2 separate regions of the Homo sapiens genome follow, and region 1 is linked to region 2. The links come from fine-mapping of genetic effects on gene expression. A gene starts in region 2. The other region holds a variant in brackets. All regions are shown on one strand. Distances are from middle to middle. Region 1 overlaps LRRIQ4 (leucine rich repeats and IQ motif containing 4). Region 2 holds the start of LRRC34 (leucine rich repeat containing 34).

Evidence for each region. PIP is the estimated chance that this variant, and not a neighbour inherited with it, causes the effect.
Region 1: its variant is the best candidate, but not a certain one, in a credible set for the expression of LRRC34 in whole blood (TOPMed, PIP 0.70).

The regions. Positions count from the first base shown.
Region 1 is chr3:169,829,774-169,840,808 of GRCh38, forward strand. It overlaps LRRIQ4 (leucine rich repeats and IQ motif containing 4), which reads left to right. Exons shown (of 6, transcript NM_001080460.3): 4 at 719-857; 5 at 3,214-3,410; 6 at 7,706-8,000. The coding sequence ends at 7,858. LRRC31 (leucine rich repeat containing 31) reads right to left here. Exons shown (of 9, transcript NM_024727.4): 9 at 9,399-10,540. The coding sequence ends at 10,209. Among named protein-coding and RNA genes, the nearest start is that of LRRC34, 22 kb to the left of the region's middle. RefSeq lists an enhancer at 6,523-6,602. The variant G/T (reference allele first, on the strand shown) is at 3,997.
Region 2 is chr3:169,808,107-169,819,420 of GRCh38, forward strand. LRRC34 (leucine rich repeat containing 34) reads right to left here and starts at 4,798. Exons shown (of 11, transcript NM_001172779.2): 1 at 4,304-4,798; 2 at 522-639. The coding sequence starts at 4,442. LRRIQ4 (leucine rich repeats and IQ motif containing 4) reads left to right here and starts at 4,764. Exons shown (of 6, transcript NM_001080460.3): 1 at 4,764-4,940. RefSeq lists enhancers at 306-450, 5,963-6,062, 6,353-6,402, a cis regulatory region at 378 and a silencer at 4,173-4,472.

The DNA of each region.
Region 1 (11,035 bases), 22 kb after region 2:
TATAGGCATAAACCACCGTGTCTGACCTGCTGCACTCTTAATGATGATAAAGTAGGCGTGGGCCACCACATAACCCCAGTCATGCAATGCCATGCACAGCATAGGTAGTTCTCACTATGACACAGGGTGTCTCTTCCTAATTCTCCATTCCTTTGCCCTGTGTTCATAGAACACCTTTCATCAGCTTTTCCTTTGTACCTGTCATGCCACAATCTTAGGGTGAAGTACAAACATTAGATTTTTGCCCAGTGAAGTTGAAAATAGTTATTTTGAATACATTCAAATCCATTCCCTGTGCATTTTGGCTACTTTCACTGAGGCAATATTGGGTTGATAGTTGAGGCAATTATCATTCTGTAGCAACTGCCACAGACAATTAGCTATTAAAAAAGGAGTTAATGATAAATGTAGTTAAATTATTCAAATTATTTTTCCATAAAGTTCTGGTGAAACAAATAAGCACTAGATGTCTGTAGTCTCTTTTCCCTGCATAAATGGAAACTAAGTCTAATGGATTTACTCAAAAATAATTTTGGGTCTTGATGATGGTCCTTTAGACATGCTTTTTCCCTTAACTCAATGCGTAATTTCCCCACTGAAAGTGAAAAAAAAAAAAAAAAAAAAAAAAAAAAAAAATGCATGAGCACCCACAGGTGATTCTGGTTATTATAATTAATTAATCAAGGTATATTATTATGGTACACTCATGTTATTTCAGAGTCTCAAAGAGCTATATATAGAGAACAATCATCTGGAGTACCTGCCCGTATCCTTGGGGTCAATGCCTAACCTAGAAGTTCTTGATTGCCGGCACAATTTGCTTAAGCAACTTCCAGATGCCATTTGCCAAGCACAAGGTGAGGAAACTTAGTAGATTCACAGCCTAGCAGAGTTTGTGGCCAGCATTTCCTATGGCAAATGGCTTCCTTGCTTTGCTAAAGACCTATCTCAGTGTTCAGAGAACTGAGTCTATCCCATTACTTCCTTGCAGGGCTCACTTAGCGACATGGGGGAGGCCAGGTGTCCTGATTAGTATAGCTAAGAGTCTTGCAAAGGCAGTTAAGTCATTTATTAAAATGGAAAGGTAAATAGCGACTGCTAAGAAAATTAGCATTTACCCATACATTTATTACACTACCAACAATAATTTACTGTACACTTACTACATGCCAGAATTTGGAGTTGGGATCCTGCAGTAAATTTCATCTAGGTCACGGAGTCACTTGAGTAAAAGAAAAAGTATTGGCCCAGAGTGGTGAAATTAGCAGGAGACTTTCTTGGAGCTACATAATTGACCTGGAAAACTATATATGATTCCTACTTAAATAGCCAAACATTTTCCACTACACTAAGCCATTCTTTGTCTGTACATTCATCCATCCACTTAATATGCTTTTGCTGAGCACCCACTGGGACCAGATTTTAAATGTTTCTTTTTTTTTTTCTGAATCCTAGGCTTATGCACATGTTTTCAAACTATGGCTATTCTTTTTTTTTTTTTTTTTTTTTTTTTTTTTTAAGACAGAGTCTCGCTCTGTCGCTCAGGCTGGAGTGCAGTGGCGTGATCTCGGCTCCCTGCAAACTCTGCCTCCCGGGTTCACGCTATTCTTCTGCCTCAGCCTCCTGAGTAGCTGGAACTACAGGCGCCCGCCACCACGCCCGGCTAATTTTTTTTTTTTTTTTTTTTTTTTTTTTTTTTTTTTTTTTTTTAGTAGAGACGGGGTTTCACTGTGTTAGCCAGGATGGTCTTGATCTCCTGACCTCGTGATCTGCCCACCTTGGCCTCCCAAAGTGCTGGAATTACAGGCGTGAGCCACCGTGCCTGGCCCAAACTATAGTTATTCTTTAATGAAAAAAGAATGGAGAGAGTGGAAGCTGATGCCTACTCATAAGGCATTCAAAAACTGGGGGCAAGGCCAGGCGCGGTGCTCACGCCTGTAATCTCATCACTTTGGGACGCCGAGGAGGGCAGATCACCTGAGGTTAGGAGTTCAAACCAGCCTGGCCAACATGGTGAAAACCCATCTCTACTAAAAATACAAAATTAGCTGAGTGTGATGGCACGTGCCTGTAATCCCAGCTACTTGGGAGGCTGAGGCAGGAGAATTGCTTGAATCCGGGAGGCAGAGGTTGCAGTGAGCTGAGATTGCACCACTGCACTCTAGCCTGTTAACAGGGCAAGACTCCGTTTTAATAAAAGTTAAAAAATTTAAAAAAAAAAAGAAAAAAAAAATGGAGACAAGGGGTTGTATGCAGTAATCCTTAGTAATGCTCCTGACCATAAATTTTTATCCTGTCCTTGGTCCCTGGAGGAGTGAAATATTCTCAAAATTTTTCAGTGTTTTCTATTTTTCTGTCTCTAATATTTATGGACACTGGCTTCAACAACTTTGAATTGTTATAAAGAAGTTGTAGGCCAGGCGCGGTGGCTCACGCCTGTAATTCCAGCACTTTGGGAGGCCAAGGCAGGCAGATCATGAGGTCAGGAGTTCGAAACCAGCCTAGCCAATACAGTGAAACCCCATCTCTACTAAAAATACAAAAATTAGCTGGGCTTGGTGGTGGGTGCCTGTAATCCCAGCTACTCAGGAGAATGAGGCAGGAGAATCACTTGAACCCGGGAGGCGGAGGCTGCACTGAACCGAGATGGCGCCACTGCACTCCAGCCTCGGTGACAGAGCTAGACTCTGTCTCAAAAAAAAAAAAAAAATAGCCAAGTGTGGTGGCGTGCACCTGAAATCCCAGCTACTTGGGAGGCTGAGGCACTTGAATCGCTTCAACCTGGGAGGCAGAGGTTGTAGTGAGCTCAGATCATGCCACTGTACTCCAGCCTGGGCAACAAAGTGAGACTCTGTCTCAAAAAAAAAAAAAAAAAAAAAAATCAATAGTCTGCTGACCTTAGGAACAGCAGGGTCTGAGAGTGATTTTTCCCAGTGGGCTGTCAGTTTCAGCTAAAAACTGTTGCTCTAAACAAACAAAACATTTGGAATATCTGGAGACTGAATTCTGTTCTCTTCATTTTGAGAAGGAGCAAACATAGAGCTAGAACTTTTATTAGATGGTAGAAAAAGTTTTGTCGGGTCTTGTGCATCCTTCCTCTCATTCCCTTTGCAAATGCAGAATTGGATCCCTCACCTATGTGGACAGGATTAGGTGACAAGTTAATATTGTTTCTTCTAAGATTGAACCACCATTACGAAAAAATCTTTTCAGCTTTGAAAGAATTACGGCTGGAGGACAACTTGCTCACCCATCTTCCAGAGAATTTGGATTCCCTAGTGAATCTTAAGGTTCTGACACTGATGGACAATCCCATGGAAGAACCCCCAAAAGAAGTGTGTGCTGAAGGCAATGAGGCCATATGGAAATACCTCAAGGAAAACAGAAACAGGAATATAATGGCAACAAAGGTAAAATCAGCCCAGATTCTTGATAACAGTTGCTTTAGAGGGAGTCTAATGGTAAACACAGTACAGATTATCCTACGGAGCAACTCCTTACACCCTTGTCCTGCTTCTGAAAAGAGAAGTTACTTGGTAACTTTTATGTCCCCAGGGCTAAGTAAGAAGATTTTTAAATGTCAGCCCTAGCATTTTTGTCTTTTATGTCCCTTATTTCTTTGTCCAATAAGAAGCCAACAAATAGGCAAAGGAAACCAAAACTTCAACATTTCCAACAATCTAAAATTCGTGGACTATTTCATTGGAATGAAAAAAGTTTGTATTAACAAAAGTAGTAAAATAAGTTTAGAAAATTAGAAATGAAAGCGTTTATAGATGAGAGGCTGAGCCCAGGGTTCTGAGCTGCCATTAATAAGGATCAAAAGGCTGAGATCCTTGTAATTCTGCTCTAGCCCTTTGAGCCCATGGAGATGTAGGACAGGTCTGGAATGTGTCCACTTCAGCCAGTGTTCTTTATTCTCCAACTGGCCCAAGTCCCCATCATCTCACAGCCGGATAACTACATAAGCCCTCTGACTACTGTCCCTGCTTGCAT[G/T]CCAGCCCCCCACAACATACCTTCTGCTCAGCAGTTGCACTGATGCTCCACTGAAATTGGCAATCCTCCATTACACTCAGAGTAAGAGTCAAGTCTTCAGTCCGTAAAACCCCCTCTCAATAGCCCTCAACCCTATCAGACCTAATGTCCTCCCTTTTATGATAAATCTTTTGTAATACCTCTTTTACTATTCCAAAATAAATTCAGAGATAATAAAAACATACAAAAGGACATAATTTTAATCAAAATAACGCCTGAGTTACAATTTAAAGGAGAAAGAAAAGTAATTTATATACAAATATATATTTCAGGCCTGGCGCGGTGGCTCTCGCCTGTAATCCCAGCACTTTGGGAGGCTGAGGCGGGTGGATCACTTGAGGTCAGGAGTTCGAGATCAGCCTGACCAACATGGTGAAACCCTGTCTCTACTAAAAATACAAAAATTAGCTGGGCATGGTGGTGCGTGCCTGTAATCCCAGCTACTCTGGAGGCTGAGGCAGGAGAATCGCTTGAACCCAGGAGGCGGGGGTTACAGTGAGCCTAGATTGTGCCACTGCACTCCAGCCTGGGCAACAGCTGTCTCCAAAAATAAATGAATAAATTATTTCAGTGTGTATATGCTCAGGATGGATTACACTTGAAAGAATGAAAGTTGTGGTTCTTAATTGAATACTTCCTAAAAGCATTTTGAAAAACTGTGCACCCTCTTGCACGTTCTTAAAATGATATTTAACATTGTTGGCCACAAGTTTAAATCATTGCAAAGGATGTAATTTCCAGTGAATTTTAAATGTTGACATTTTAAAATAGAGCTGTTAGATCAATATTTTAAATGTATCCAGTGGAAACTGAATATCATTATGATTTGTCAACACCAATTTACAAATACTCAAACAAGTTATTATTTTATAGGCAGAATTTTTATATCATATTCCTTTTCTTCTTAAACATGTACTTCCATTCTACTTTCCCCTCAAAATTGATCCTAAGGTTTTATGTATACACATATAAGTCTTTCATAGATTGCTCTTTTGTACTTCTAGGTGACAAAAATATTTATATAAATTAAATTTTAAAAATTTAAAAATGTATATACATTACAACTATTAGTATAAAATCACCTAAAACAACATAAAATTTCTTACAAATTTTAATAATTATTAGACATATAGGATTTTTTAGAACAGTGTACCAAAATGAGAGGGTTTTTTTAGCATAGTTTATATATTCATGCATAAATATTGATGATTATTAGAATAACACAGGGTTGATTATAGATTCTACTCCTGTTTCTCATTTTACAGATGAAAGCCTTGAGAAACCTTGTTCACGTAGATGAGTTAAAGAGAACAGAAGAAGCTTTTTTTGCCTGTAATGTTTTATTTTAAAAAAACAATGATTCATGCATCTCTGAGCTTCTTCCAGATTTATATCCCCCAAATCGATAGCAGGTCTTAGCTGACATGTCAACTAGGCTTCCCTTATTTTTCTTGAAGGTAGAATTAGAAACCACCTGTCTTGCAAAAGGATTGGTTAACCAGTCCCTAGAGTCATTCATTTTCTCATCAACACTTGTACTTTGAATTGTCTTTTTCTGTGTGTGTGTGTGTGTGTGTGTGTGTGTGTCCTAATGATTTTTGGAGTCCAGGGCAATGCACCATAGTAAGATTCAGGTGGGTGCAAGCTGTGCCCTTCCTCTGTGGAGCATCACAGGGGCAACTGGGATGGGGGATCTGCAGTTATGTTCTCGGGATGATTTTAGGAAGGGGTACATATGGAAGCTGGAGCTCAGGAAATGGACTGTCTTCAACCTATCCATGCCTGCACACTGTTGGAAAGGCTTTGTAGACCAGGGTATAGGCCACACAATTGAAGACTGCTTAACCTTAAGTCAACAAAAAGCCCCATAAATTTCCAAAATGCCTCTAGAGAGCAGTGCTGTTCCCTGGATCCCGATTGGTCTGCTGTTTTCACTCCCCATCTCCTCTTTCCTACTCTCACTGGACTTCAGTCACAAGCAGATCTGGTGTTCCTCCAAGGACCAAGCATGTTCCTGGCTCAGGGCCTTAACACTGGCTCTTCCTGTGCCCAGAGATGCTTTCCCCAGATATGAGCAAGATTCTGGCCCTCACTTCATTCCATCTCTGCTTAAACATTCTCTTATCAGAGAGCCCTTCCTTGATCCACCTTATATAAAACAGCATACCCCCAGCCACCTCTTTCATTTGTTCATTCATTCAACAAACATTTATTGAGCTTCTACTATGCACCAGACACTGTTCTAAGCATTGAGATACATCAGTGAACAAAACAAATATTTATGTCCTCACAGTACTTAAAATCTAGTAGGAGGGAAATAAAAGCATGAAATAGAAAACATAAAATGAAATACTATGTTAGAGAGTGCTACTGTTTAAAAAAAAAAAAAAGTTAGCCTAAGGGGAACTGAAATTGCCAGTAGTGTGTGGAGGTGGAGAAGTGGTTGATTTAAATAAGATTGTCAGAGTAGGCCTCACTGAAAAAATGGCAGTCTTAGCTTAGGCTGCCACAACAAAATACCATAGAACAGGCGGCTTAAACAATGGAAATGTATTTTCTCACAGTTCTGGAGGCTGGAAGTCTAAGGTCAGAGTATCAGCATGATTGGAGTCTGGTGAAGGCCCTCTTCCTGGCCTGTAGAAGCTGACTTCTCCCTGTGTCTTCATATAACAGAAAGAGAGAGAGAGAGAGAGAGAGATTGCACTAGAGAGTGCTAACTCTCTGATATCTCTCCTTATAAGGCCACTAATCTCATCATGAGGACCCTGCTGTTATGACCTCATATAAATCTAATCATCTCCTCAAAGCCCCTTCTCCAAATTCATTCACACTGGGGATTAGGACTTCAGCATATGAATTTGGGGCAACACAGTTCAGTCCGTAGCAATGACAATCAAGCAAATCCTTGAAGCAGCGGAGGGGTGAGCCATCTGAATACTGAGAAGAGTTCCAGGCAAAGAAAGCAGCGAATATACAGGCCCTGAGTCACAACTGTGCCTATGTGTCTGAGCAGGGAGGAGGCCCGCATGGCTGGAGCAGAGTGAGCCAGGGAAAAGGGAGTTAAGAGGTTAGAGGGGTCAGGATTGGGGAGGCAGATCAGAGAGGGCCTTGTAAGCCATATAAGGACTTTGGCTTCTATTCAGAGAGAAATGGGGAGCCACTGGACAAGTCTGCTGCTAGAGGAAGGGTGTTGCTGGGTAGGTAGGAGGGAATAGGATCCAGGGAACAAGTGAGGGCTGGCTTTAGGCAGGAGCACAGACAGCCCAGTAAGGAGCAGGAAGGCAGGGCGTAGGCACTCAGATCCCCTCACCATGTGCGGTCACTCTCCATAGCACTCATCACCGTCTGACAAATTGAACATTCATGTGTTTATTTTGTACTGTCTCTTCCTCACTGGAATGTGAGCTCCATAAAGTTGAGACAGTTATTTCTCTGCTGTTGCCCAAAAGTCTAGAACAGGCACTGGCACATAAAAACAATAAATGCATTTTTTAAAAAATTTGTCTGAATGCCTAGCCAATTGAGAAAGATAGAAAATAAAATTTAGAGTTCTAATCACATCCCATTCTCTCCACGTCTTCAAGACCATGTATCAGAATAAAGAGATTTAACAATTTCCAGTTCATTGTGATACCAGCCGATGCTGAATTTGGGTTTATCTTGTTTTCAGATTCAGGCATGGTGGCGTGGAACAATGGTACAGAGAGGATTTGGGAAATTCGGTGAACTACTAAAACCACAAAAGAAAGGAAAGACCTCTCCAAAAGATAAGAAAGGAAAGAAGGATGTAAAAGGAAAACCAGGAAAGGGAAAAAAGAAATAATCCTGTAAATTGATAAATTGGGGTAATGGACCTTGATAGATTAAGAAGACAAAATATCTAGGAATTAGATGCCTACTACATTAAAATTATTCATAAAATTACACTTATGTGTAAAAATAAATGATTCTTACTTTTACTGAAATATTTATGGATAAAATGATATAACACCTTGGAATTGCTTCTAAATAATATGGGAGGGGGAGGGGAAAGTGGGTAGGAATACAAGTGAAACAAGATTGGCCGTACATTGATAACTAGAATAAGGTGATGAGTACGCAGGGGTTCTTTATACTATTTGCCTACTTTTATTTATTTATTTATTTTAAGACAGGATCTCACTCTGTTGCCCAGGCTGGCATGCAGTGGTGCAATATTGGGTCACTGCAACCTCCATTTCCCAGGTTCCAACAATTCTCATGCCTCAGCCTCCCGAGTAGCTAGGACTACAGGTGCATGCCACCATGCCTGGCTAACTTTTATATTTTTTTTGTAGAGATGGGGTTTCACCATGTTGGCCAGGCTGGTCTCGAACTCCTGACCTCAAGTGATCTGCCCGCCTTGGCCTCCCAAAGTGCTGGGATTACATGCGTGAGCCACTGCACCCAGCCAGCCTACTTTTAAAACTTTTACTGTGAAATAATTATAGATTCACAGGAAGTTCCAAAGAAATGTTCAGGTAGGTCCAGGCACTACTCAGCCTCCCTCAACGCTGACCTCTTTTATAACTATAGCACAATAACAAAACCAGAAGATTGACATTGGTACAATCAACAGTGCACTCATTTGTGTGTGTGTGTTTGTGTAATCCTATGCAATTTTGTCACATATAGTTTTGTGCAGCCACCATCACAGTCAAGACATAGAATTGTTCCATTGCCACAAGTTTCCCTTGTGCTATTCCTCTGTAGCCATACCTACTGCCTACTCCTCTCCCAATGCCTAACTTGTTCTCCAGATCCATAATTGTGTCATTTTAGGAATGTCACATAAATGGAAACACACAGTTTGTAACTGGGATTGGCTTTTTTATTCAGCCTAATCCACCTGAAGTCTATCGAACTGGGGGCATGTATCAGTGGTTTGTTCCTTTCTGTTGCTGAGGAGTATTCCATAGTCCCACAGTTTGTTTAACCTTTCACTCATTGTTTCTAGTTTTTTTGCTATTGTGAACAAAGCTGCTATGAACATTCATGCATAGGTTTTTGCATATGCATAGATACTCATGGAATGCATGGGAATGCTCATGATATTCATGGTATTCTTTTATATCATGTAACCCAAAATATCCCCTTTACATCATTCAAAACCTCCTCATCCTGAAAACCTTTTAATTTGGAGTAGTGTTGATTTTACATTTGCATGTCTTTCAGGCAGTGATTGCAATACTAATTATTAGTGTAGTAGAAGAAAGCAAAACATAATTTGACTAGAGCTTGTCAGAATAGAAATGTGCAGACAAACATCTCTGCCATGCAATGACTTTCATGCTCTAGCAAAAGAAAATCAAAAATTTCAAAAATAGTTTAGAGCAACACAAAACTGTCATTAACGAATTAAATTAGTTTTATGAAGCAAATTCCATTTCAAAGAAATGCCTGGAGGCAATATGTTAACAATTTTTTAAACAATAAAAGGTTTTAATTTATTCTAACAAGATATGTTTTTCATACTGAGTTTTAGATTTTTAATCACTTTTTACTAAGATTTATATGTCAGTGACTATCATTACTGTTCATGGTTTATATCTGAGATAAAAGGCACCAGAATATAAAATAATAAACCATAGAAAGGTACACTTTCTGATAAAAACCTACATAGACTACATTAAGATACATATAGTAATAGTAATGATACATGAAACTATTAGACAGCTAGTGCCTTTCACATTAGAATTACACACACACACACATACCCCTTTATATTTAGAACATTTAACTTGTAGGAAAAGAAGAGGCAAAACATTTCTGGGCAAGAGGAAAGCAGTTGCAGTACCAAAATCTAAACACTTTTGGCAAGGCTTCTAAACAGCAAATGAACTAATTATATATCCAAAACAAATCCATTGAAAAATGCCATTTTTGTTTCATAGACAGAGAATAATGGCATGCTCATATTAGATATTATATATATATTTACATATATATGTGTATTATATATGTATATTATATATATGTGTATATATGTATATTACATATATATATGTAATATATATATATATTTACAAAGCTCTTGTAATATAAGTCCCATTAAATGGCCCAGAAGTTGAAATTCAGTTCATGACTCTGGAATTCGTTCATGTTCTTTTCCTTTGGAGAATGGTTTGTAGCTTAGTAGGACATGGGAAATCAGTTTACTGAAACCCACCATGGTCAAAGTGAATGCTTCTTTTTTTATCTTGGTCAAAGCATTCTAGTTCTTCCTCCTGTGAAGCTGGGAGAATCCATCTTTTCATTCCTATCTCAGTGATCTGAGGAAGCTTGGTCACAGCATATAACAAGTGTCTAAACCATTGTCCACAATCTCGAAAATTTGATGGTCGAAGGCTAATATCCAGCTCGATTAGCTCTTTGAGGAACCGCACGTTTTGGCAGAACATGGTCCACCCCGCATCACAGATGCTGTCATTGTAGCTCAGGTCCAGCTTTTGCAGTTTGGCCAGATGACCCGTCTGTATGACCGATGCTGGAAAACAGAATCACTCTAAATGCTAACATACAAGAATACTGTCTGCCATGGCTATTCCCATTTCCCATAACACTATCTCCAGGAATAGTAATGACAAGATTAGTAATTAGTAATGATTTGTTATTAGCAGCTTTATTCAGGACATCTGAAATTAGTAACAGATTTCCTCTCTGTACATCCCATCTACAGCTTTTTTTATTTCTTTTTCCAAATCTCAACCCAATAATTTTTTTTTGTCAAGTTCCTGCTCTCTGTTCCACTGAAGTCCGAGCTCTTCCTACAGATTTTCTCTAATTAAATGTAAAGAGTGATGGCTCATTGGCTTTAACTAAGGACCATTTGTAAATAATCATCTTGCTGCTTTAATTGTTCATTTTCATTCATTCAGTACTTCTTCATCCAGCAATTATTTAAATGAGCATTTTCCATATGCAGAACATACCTGGATAATTTCCAATTCACCTTAGAGACCCCAATACATGTGACAGTTTT
Region 2 (11,314 bases):
GTTCGAGACCAGCCTGGCCAACATGGTGAAACCCTGTCTCTACTAAAAAATACAAAAATTAGCCGGGCATGGTGGCGAGCACCTGTAATCCCAGCTGCTCGGGAGGCCAAGGCAGGAGAATTGCTTGAACCCAGGAGGCTGAGTTTGCAGTGAGCCGAGATCACGCCACTGCACTCTAGCCTGGGCGACAGAGGGAGGCACCATCTCAGAAAAAAAAAAAAAAAAAAAAGATTCACCCTGCCCACAAACAAAAAAAAAAGATTCACCCCACCCACAGAAGTTAAAGATCACTCTGGAGCCCAAGCTTGGGTACTCCTGGTCTAGTGCTCTTTCCTGAATACTATACCACCTCTAAGACCTACTAACAGTGTTGCTCGTGTACTTACTTACCTGAATCAAATGGTATGTTCATTTTACCAAGCATTTTCAAATGGCTATAAAATCACTCAATATGTTAGGATTTTCACACACATGAATATAAGCAAACACTATTAATGTAATCAAGTATTTGTCTTTCTTACCCCTTTTTAATTTCTTCATCCACTTCTTGGAGTATATGCAATATAAAAGGATTAATTTTCTGGGATTTTTCCATACACAGATTAGAATAATGTTTCTGGAGACCAGATTCTGGAGATTCTGAAAAATATATGCATCCTCTATCACATATAAATTATTCTAGAAGCTTTAAAAAAAACCATAAAAACTACCTCTTTCAAATATATGAGTTGTATGTGTGTATAGTGGGGGTAGGGAAGAAAAGGAAACAGAATTAAGGTTAGAAAAAGAGAAGAGAAATAAAAATAATGAATGGGAGAGATAATTAAAATGCTGTTTGGAGAACTAGGGCCATTGAAGCACCCATTGAGGCTTGGCAGACACTGGCTCAAGTGAGCACCCTACGTTGGAAGTGACATAAAGGGAGAACTAAGCTCCATTATGTGCCAGGCCTGGTAGCTGAGGAAAATGACTTCCAAAGAAATTGTATATTTTGTCCAAAACCATGCAGCTAATAAAGGCAGAGTGCAGAATCAAACTGATTCCAAAACCTCTTTCCACTGTGCCCTAATGGGTTACAGGGACTCAAGGTTTCTTTTTTTTTTTTTTTTTTTTCAACTCAGTATCTCAGCATCCACGAGAGGAAAAGGTTTCTTAAAATAGCTTCACATAAAAACAATTTTATCTAATAACCTAACTCAAAAGGGATCTGATAAAGCACCTACTCCCACAAGCTTCTTGGATACCCTCTACACCATCCCAAGTTTGAATGTAACTGTCATTTCTTCATACCAAATCGAGGCCTGGCTCACAGAAGCTCTTCTCCTACCCAGCCTTCCATTTCCTCTTTCTAAAGGTGACTTTTCCCTAAGTTCTTAAGAAGACAGACACAAAGCAGGAGTTGAGATCTCCTTTCTGTTATACATGCAGATTTCCTTAATGACCTTGCTGTTCTCAGTAATACCTCAAAAGCATCTTCTGCAAGGCCTACATCTTCTGGGGTGGAAGTTATGCTGTTACTTTTCTTAGAAGTACAGGCCACTGTCTTTGTTTTCTATACATCTACCTTTTGTGGATGTCTTTTAAAAATTTGTGCACAGAGATCTCATTGCTCAACCAGCCTAGCTTTTTAGGAGCTGGCTTCTCTTCTAAGTCTCTACATCTCAGAAATGTTGTTTACTGAGTGTCCTTTGCACTCTGAAGAATAATGAGTTTGCTAAACGGATCTGCAGAACGAGATTTAACATGAGGAACATTACATTTCAGATGAAAGCAAACAAAATTTTCTTATAGTTTTTAATAACCTTTTTAAAAATAAATTTAATATACTTATTCCAGACAATTTGGAAATTTCTTTTTTTTTTTTTTTTGAGATAGGTTCTTGATCTGCCACCCAAGCTGGAGAGCAGGAGCGCAATCTCGGCTCACTGCAACCTCTGCCTCCCGGGTTCAAGCGATTCTCCTGCCTCAGCCTCCCGAGTAGCTGGGACTACAGGCACACACCACCACACCCAGCTATAAAGACGGGGTTTCACCATGTTGGCCAGGCTGGTCTCAAACTCCTGACCTCAAGTGATCAGCCTGCCTCAGCCTCCCAAAGTGCTGGGATTACAGGTGAGCCACTGAGCCCGACCGGAAATTTCTAACATTAAAAAAAAATACATGTTAATCTGCAATCCCACTGCCAAAGAACAACCACAATTGAGGTCTAGGCATACATACTTCCTATAGTTTTTCTTTTATATGCATATTAAGTATTTTTTAAACAAAATTGGAATCTTTGGATATAACTTTATATGCTGTTTTTTAAATTAACATTATATTGTAAGCAGTTTTCCCATGTCACTAGATATTCTCTGAAAAATTTAAATAGCATAATTTCTGTCATGTGGATAGATGTACGTATTAAAAAAAGCTTCACCTATTTTAGAAAATTTTCATGTATTTAAATGATATTGTAGCACAATATTTCCCAAACTGTATTTTGTGGAATATGCATGTTCTACAGGATGATCAAAGGTGTTCCAAATAGAATAGGTCTTATTATCAAGTAAGTCTGAGAAGTACTAAAATAAACAAAACTATACACAGACACAACACTTCTCAGGGCATTTAAAACGTGCACACTCTGCAAACTGTTAAGCTTGAGAATAGGGAGGATAAGAATGCTGCATTTCCGGCCGGGTGCGGTGGCTTACGCCTGTAATCCCAGCACTTTGGGAGGCCGAGGCGAGCGGATCACTTGAGGCCAGGAGTTCGAGACCAGCCTGGCCAATATGGTGAAACCCTATCTCTACCAAAAATACAAAAATTAGCTGGTGTGGTGGCGCATGCCTGTAGTCCCAGCTACTTCGGAGGCTGAGGCGACAGAATCGCTTGAATGCGGGAGGTGGAGGTTACAAGGTTGCAGTGGGCAGAGATCGCGCCACTGCACTCCAGCCTGGGCGACAGAGGAGACTCCATCTCAAAAACAAAACAAAACAAAAACCTCACTTGGAATGCAATCTAGAAAATGCTGCTTTAGCGTCCTCCCCAGGAAACAAAGCAAGTAGATCCCAAATAGAAGTTGGAGCTGGGCTCCCACTGGGCTTCTTTCTTCCCTACTGTCTTCCTTGGTATTAAGAGAAAAATTGCCCTGAGAATCTCCGAGGGCACAGAAATGTGTCAGACTACAATTCATTTTCGCGAAGGCATGAAGGAATCTTAGACTACGAGCTAAATACAGCTAAACAAAGTTATGGAAATATTCTTATTTAACAAGCTAGCCAGAGATTTACAGTATTTAAAAGTTTCTGCTACCCTTCCTTTGATTTAAAATTCACCTACGTATTTTGTATGCCAGGATTTTGTGGCACCAATGAATTTATTTCCTATATTGTATTCATATTAGAAGGAAAATAGCCTTCAAATTGTAAAGCAAAAACTAGGAAATAACCCAGCTACGCAGGAAAATGTCAAGAACCTAACCCAAATTTCATTTTTTCATCCACGCCTCTGGCAGCCACGTTTTAACAATTTCCAGAGAGAGGACTTACTTAGGAGGTAGATCCCTCCAAAACATGCTTTTCTATACTTAGCCAAGCACTGGGAAATCTAAGCGATAAGCATGAGTCAGAACGTGGGTGCCCTATCCAGAATCCGCAGTGTGTACATTTGAACAAGTTGTTATGCCAGCTTAAATTTCCTCTCATGCTAAAGGCAGAGCCTAACACTGCCCATCTCCTGGATGCAGTATTATTAAGCCAGCCTCCGAACACAGTTCCGTATCCACAAACAGACTTTAAAACCAGCATATAAAACGGAAATGGCGGGTAGGGGGTGGCCGTTCAGGGTAGGTGCTTAACTTGCTAATCATGGGCGCAGAAATATTTAAAACGGAGATAGTACAGAGGTGCAAAGTCAGAAACAGTATCAAGACCCTCATGCCCCCCTGTGACCTGCTCTCTGGGACTTTCACAAAAAGGGGGCTGAGAAGAGCCCCCCCGCCACCCCCTCCCGGAGACCCTGAGAGCACGGCGACAGACACCATCTGCACAACCTATCGCGCAAAGGGCGGACCCACGGGAACTCCTCTCCGTGGACTCCTCTCCTGCCCCCGGTCGCAAAGGGCGACCGGGGACTCTTCTCCTGCCCTCGTTTCTGGGCGCCCCAAACCTCTGGCCACAGCTGGGGTTCCCAGGGGCCCCCCTCCCGCCTCGACGCCTTGGGCTGGCGGGCTGCTGGGAGGACTCCTGCCGTGCGACCCCGGCGCCCCTCGCGCGTTTTGTCTGGGCCAGGCCGCGCAGACGTGCTCCCTACTTCTTACCGCGCTGGACCGCCAGGGCCGCGCCCGGAGTACTGGCCTGAGTGGAGGCCCAAGCCGGGGACCTGGCCGGCGCACGGGCGGCCTCCCGGGAGCTCCCCATGCTCCTCTCACCCACTGGCCGCGGCGGCTGCGCTGCCATGGCGACCGCGCGCGCACTTACAGTCCGCCTGCAGCTGTGAGGCGGCTACACGAGCCTCGGCGCCAGCCTGCTTCGAGTCCCGCTGGCTGTGCCTGCCCGGGCCCTGAGGCCTCACTGCTAAGGCAGTGACCGCCTACTCTGTGGAGGTCCTTTGTCACCCTGCCCTGGTTAAAGGCAGCCTGAGGGAGGGCGTCCTGGCTCCTTTGCAGGGAGGAGTTCCCGAGGTTTGAGGGGCTCCGCTGCTGAGCTAGGGCTGGGGCTACAAAGAAGATTATGACAAAGCCCGCTCCTACAAAGTGTGCACCGGCCTGCCGGGCCAGCGAAGAAGCAGAGTAGCATCAGCACATGATAAAGGCGTTGGGCTTTGGGAGCATAAAGGGTTTTGTGCTCCCAAAGGGCGGGGCCACCAGGGAGGGCTTCCTGAAGGAGGTGACATCTGGATGGTCCGAAGGAGGCTGCCAGAGGACAGAATGCTTGGTGCGTTCTGGGCATGCGCAGGTACTTGAATGTACTCAGATCAGTACAGACAGCGGGGAGGCGGGCAGGGCCAGATCCACATGTGTTACTAAAAGGCCAGGGGTTCCGTCTAGATCCAGCTGCTCCTGGCACAGAATGCCAATCACTGAAACAATGAGAATTGCCAGGGAGGAAGGCTTTAATCTGGTGCTGCAGCCGAGGAGATCAGTCTCAAATCTGTCTCCCCAACCAACTAGAATCAAGGGTTTACATAGCAAGAAAGAAATGTGACTACTTGCAGGAAATCAGGAATTAGGGAGGGGTAAGGAAGAGGAGTTGGTCAACAGGAATCAGGTGGTCGTTTAGGGAATCATGGTGGGTGAGGGATCTGGTGTCTCATTGTCCAGATGTGACGATCTGGTAAGTTTCATTTCCTTGATACTGAAATGGTAATAGTTTCCTTATCCCCCTTGCAGGGCATGCGATGGTGAGGCAGGAAAATAGGGTCTGGAGGTAGGGAACATAAGGCCGATTCGCACTTCGGCTATAACAGGAAATATCCTCTCCATAGGGTGTACACCATAAACGACTTTGTAACCTTACTTCATCCTCTTCATTTACACAGGGCGTACTCTAAGTAACCAATGGAATCCTCTAAGGGATATTTAAACTCCCAAAAAATTTGTAACGGGGTCTTTGAGCCCCTGTGCTCGGCCCACTCCCACACTGTGGAGTATACTTTCATTTTCAGTAAATCCCTTCATTCCTTCCTTGCTTTGTGCGTTTTGTCCAATTCTTTGTTCAAGACGCCAAGAACCTGGACACCTTCTACCGGTAACAATGGGGGTGTGGCTTGCTTCTTTGGTGCTCCGCTGCTCAAACCTCTAGGGGGAGCATGCAGACGGGCAGGTTGTGGGGCACGTGGGCTCCGAACTCACCGCAGCGTCTAGGGGTGAATGCTTACAGCTGCTGAAGCAAAGCCCCAGTAGGCGTGTGTTACAGGGTGCTCTTTCAGTTTTGCTGTGTATAGGCGGCTTGCGTCAATCAGCTCAGTTAGACCCTCTGTCTTACCGCAAGGACAGAGGGCTTTCTGTTTCCTGGGGTTCTGGCCTTGGTGTACCGGAAAAATCGGATCACACAGTGGGCTTGGAGAATGAGTGCAAGGTTTTATTGATTGGTGGAAGTGGCTCTCAACAGATGGATGGGGAGCCAGAAAGGGAATGGAGTGGAAAGGTGGTTTTCCCCTGGAGTCCGGCCGCTCAGCAGCCAGACTCTCCACTGACTGCCCTGGCCAAATTCCCCTCGGTCTACACATCGTGCTGCTTGTCGGTGACCTGGCAGCGTCCGCTGGTGCCTGTCGGTGTGCTCTTCTGCTCCTCTGTTCCTCTCAATGTCCAGCCACCTGTGTGCTCCTCCGCCGGTGTGTTCCTCTCAACATCCAGCCGCTTGTGTCTGTGCCTACTAGGGTCTTGGGGTGTTTGTTTGTTTGTTTGTTTTTTGAGACAGAGTCTCGCTCTGTGGTCCAGGCTGAAGTGCAGTGGCCTGATCTTGGCTCACTGCAACCTCTGCCTCCGAGCTTCAAGCAATTCTCCCACCTCAGCCTCCAGAATAGCCGGGATTACAGGCGCCCCCCACTACGCCCAGCTAATTTTGTATTTTTAGTAGAGACAGGGTTTCACCATGTTGGCCAGGCTGGTCTCAAACTCCTGACCTCAAGTGATCTACCTGCCTCTGCCGCCCAAAGTGCTGGGATTACAGGCGTGAGGCACTATGCCTGGCCCTTTAATCCATTTTGATTTGATTTTTGTATGTGGCAAGAGATAGGGGTGTAGTTTCATTCTTCTGCATATGGATATCCAGTTTTCCCAGAACCGTTATTGAAGAAACTATCTTTTCCCCAATATATGTTACTGATACCTTTGTCAAAAACGAGTTCACTGTAGATGATGGATTTATATCTGGGTTCTCTATTCTGTTCCATTGGTCTATGTATCTATTTTTATGCCAGTACCATGCTAGTTTGGCTACTTTAGCTCTGCAATATAATTTTAATTTAGGTAATGTGATTCCTCCAGTTTTGTTCTTTTTGCTCAGGTTAGCTTTGGCTATGCTGGATCTTTTGTGGTTTCATACAAATTTTAGGATTATTTTTTCTATTTCTGTGAAGAAGGTCTTTGGTATTTTGATAGGAATTGTATATAATCTGTAAATTGCTTTGGATAAAATGGACATTTTAACAATAATTATTATTCTAATCCAAGAACATAAAATATCTTTCCTTTTTTTGTGTGTGTGTCCTCTTTAATTTCTTACTTCAATGTTTTATAGTTTTCATTGTAGAGATCTTTTACTTCTTTGGTTGAGTTTGTTCTTAGGTATTTTATTTTATTTGTAGCTACTGTAAATGGGATTATTTTCTTACTTTTTCTGATTGTTTGCTGTTGGTATATAAAAATGCTACTGAGTTTTATATGTTGATTTTGTATCCTACAACTTTATTGAATTTGTTTATCCATTCTAATAATTTTTTTTGGTGGAGTCTTAAGGATTTTCCAAATATAAGATTATATCATCTGCAAACAAGGATAATTTGGGTTCTTCTTTTCCAGTTTGGATGCTCTTTATATCTTTCTCTTCTCTAATTGCTCTAGCTAAGACTTCCAGTGCTACACTGAATAATAGTGGTTAAAGTGGGCATCCTTATATTGTTCCAGATCTTAGAGAAAAGGTTTTCAGTATTTCCTATTCAGTATGATACTACCTACGGGCCTGTCAAATATGGTTTTTATCGTGTTGAGGTATCTTCCATCTACTCCCAGTTTATTGAGGGCTTTTATCATGAAGTGATGTTGAATTTTATCACATGCTTTTTCAGCATCAATTAAAATGATCATATGGTTTTTGTCCTTCATTCTGTTGATAGGTTGTATCACATTGATTGATTTGTGTATGTTGAGCCATCCTTGCATTCCTAAGATGAATGCCACTTGGTCATGATGAATGATTTTTTTAATGTGTTGTTGAATTCAGTTTGCTAGCATTTTCGTTGAGGATCTTCGCTGAGAAGATCCATCAGGGACATTGCCCTACAGTTTTCTGTTTTTTGGTTTGCTTGTTTGTTTGTTTTGGTGTGTCTTTGGTTTTGGTGTCAGGGTAATACTGGCCTCATAGAACGAATTTGGAAGTAGTTTTTCCTCCTCTATTTTTCAGAACAGCTTGAGTAGGATTGGTATTAGTTCTTCTTTAAATGTTTGATAAAAATCAGCATTGAAGCCATTGGGTCCCAGGTTTTTCTTTGCTAGGAGACTTTTTATTATGACTTTGATCTTTTTACTTGCTATTGGTCTATTGAGGTTTCAGATTTCTTCATGGTTCAATCTTGGTAAATGGTATATATCTAGGAATTTATCCATTTCTTCTAGGTTTCCCAATGTATTAACATATAGTTGATCCTTGGAATTTCTACTGTATCAGTTGTAATATCTCCTTTTTCATCTCTGATTTTATTTATTGGATCTTCTCTCTTTTTCTCTTAATCTGGCTAAAAGTTTATTGATTTTATTCATCTTTTCAAAAAACCCAACTTTTCATTTTATTAATTTTTTTGCATTGTTCTTTATTTTAATTTCATTTATTTCTGCTCTGATTTTTGTGATTTCTTTTCTTCTACTTTTTTTTTTTTTTTTGACAGAGTTTTGCTCTGTTGCCCAGGATGGAGTACAGTGGCATGATCTCAGCTCACTGCAACCTCTGCCTCCTGGGTTCAAGTGATTCTTTTGCCTCAGCCTCCTGAGTAGCTGGGATTACAGGCACACACCACAATGCTTGGCTAATTTTTATATTTTTAGTAGAGACAGGGTTTCACCATGTTGGCCAAGCTGGTCTTGAACTCCCAACCTCAGGTGATCCACTTGCCTCAGCCTCCCAAAGTGCTGGGATTACAGGCGTGAGCTATCACTCCCAGCCTTCTACTAACTTTGAGTTTGGTTTTTTACTTTTCTAGTTCTTTAAGATGCATCATTACATTGTTTATTTGAAGTTTTCTGCTTTTTTGATGTAGGCACTTATTGCTATAAACATGCCTGTTAGTACTGCTTTCACTGTATCCCATAGGTTTTGTTATGTTGTGTTTCCATTTTAATTTGTTTCAATAAATTTTTTAATTTTCTTAATTTTTTCATTGACCCACTGGTCATTCAGGAGCATGTTGTTTAATTTCCACGTGTTTGTACAATTCCCAAATTTCCTCTTGTTATTGCTTTCTAGTTTTATTCCATTGTGCTCAGAGAAGATACTTAATATGATTTTGATATTTTTGAAAATTTTTAAGACTTGTTTTGTGACCTAAAATATGTCTATCCTTGAGAAGATCCATGTGCTGAGGAAAAGAATGTGTATTCTGCAGCTGTTGGATGAAATGTTCTGTAAATATCTAGGTACATTTGGTCTATAGTGCAGATTAAGTCCAATGCTGCTTTGTTGGTTTTCTGTCTTGATCTCTCCAATGCTGAAAGTATCCAATGCTGAAATCAACAGCCATTATTGTACTGGAGTCTATTTCTTTCTTTATCTCTAGTAATATTTGCTTTACATAACTAGGTGATCCAGTGTTGGGTGCATGTATATTTATGATCGTTATATCCTCTTGCTGAATGAACCCCTTTATCATTATATAATGACCTTTTTTGTCTTTTTTTATAGCTTTTGTCTCGAAATCTATTTTGTCTGATATATGTATAGCTACTCCTGCTCTTTTTTGTTTTCCATTTGCATAGAATATCTTTTCCCATTCCTTTATTTTCAGCTTATGTGTGTCTTTATAGGTGAAATGTATTTCTTGTGGGCCACAGATCGATCATTGGGTCTTGTTTTTTAAAATCCATTTAGCACCTCAAGAGCAATTCCTCAGAGCCCAGCACAGCATCAAGATTTGCCCAGGAATTGCAGTCCTTGTGACCTAGACTGCCTTTCAAGTTTATTTAGAACCCCCAGAGCACTTTATCCCACAGTGGTGGGGCTAGCCAGAACTCACGTTCCACCCACTGGCATGGACAATTCCCCTCTGGCTAGGGCTGGTCTAAATGCTCCCTCCATGAGCACCACCTGAATTCTACCCGATGTTGCTTTCCACTGTGACAGGCAGCACTGAAGTCCATTCCAAAGCCCCACAGTCACTTTCCTCTCCCTCCCCGAAGCACACTTATTCTCTCTCTGTGCCACATGGCTGCTCTGGGGGTTGGAGGAGGGATGGTTCTGACTATCCAGGACTGTCTTTCCTACCTTCTTCAGTGCCTCTTTCTTTGCTATGATGTTAAAACCAGGGACTGTGATTGCAAACCTGATCTTTCGTTCTTATGAAGATGATTTCTTGTGTGAATAGTTGTTCAATTTGGTGTTCCTGTTGGAGGGGATGATTGCTAGAGGGTTCTATTCAGCCATCTTGCTCTGCCTCCAGGAATTTTTTTTTTAACAAGATGTATTTGTACAGAATTCTCTCAGCTATGACTCCCTGTTGAAGAATTTTCTTTCTGGTATAGGGAAGGCATGTTTCACATGGAAGGTTTTATTTCCTGTTTTCAAGGCGAGAAAGGGAAGATTAGAATACACTTATTGCATCTGCTATTTTTCAAGTGTCTTTAGCTTAAAGTAATCCTCATACCAAAGTGGCATATTTTGGAGTGGCATATTCTGCCACTCTTTATTACCATTACATGAATATCCAGTCTGAAGTCAATTAAGGTTACTTTTAGTTTGTTTGTGATTCACCAGTTTTTAGAAGGAGAAGTTCTGCTGAGTGAAGTTTTAAGCAAAATCTTGAAATTCTTTTAACTAGAAATGGGTTTTTATGCTAACAGAGAGAGTCACACACCATATTAACCTCAGGAACCTAGTCTTACCTATCTAGTTTGTGCATAGACAGACTTGGAAACAAAAGCATCAACACTCACTGTAAATTTGAGAGGGCTGATTAGTTTCTTAAATGATTTTCTCAGGGGTTAGAGTTACACAAAGAAAGCTAATTGTTAAACTATCCAAATCTTGGCTCCTTCAAATGAAGATGTAACAATTATTTAATTTAAAAATCACCCGACCATAATATTGGATTGTAATAATAAGTAAATTTGATCACATTTGTGTAGCAATCCCTAGAGAAAAAATGGCCAATAAAGACCAAATCTTCCCCTTTCTCAATTACTGTGGCAGAATTACTGGCAAAGCTATTGCAAATCTGGGTTTTACAATCTCCTTTTATTAAATCCACAAATGAACGTGAAATATGGGTGTATATATATAGCTTTCAGAGGGCCGTCAAATTGATGGGGTATATGATTAAGGTGAGATAACATACACACACAATCAGATATTCTAAGCAGGTCTTATTATGGAGAAAGATGAATGCTAAGAGAAATAAGTTA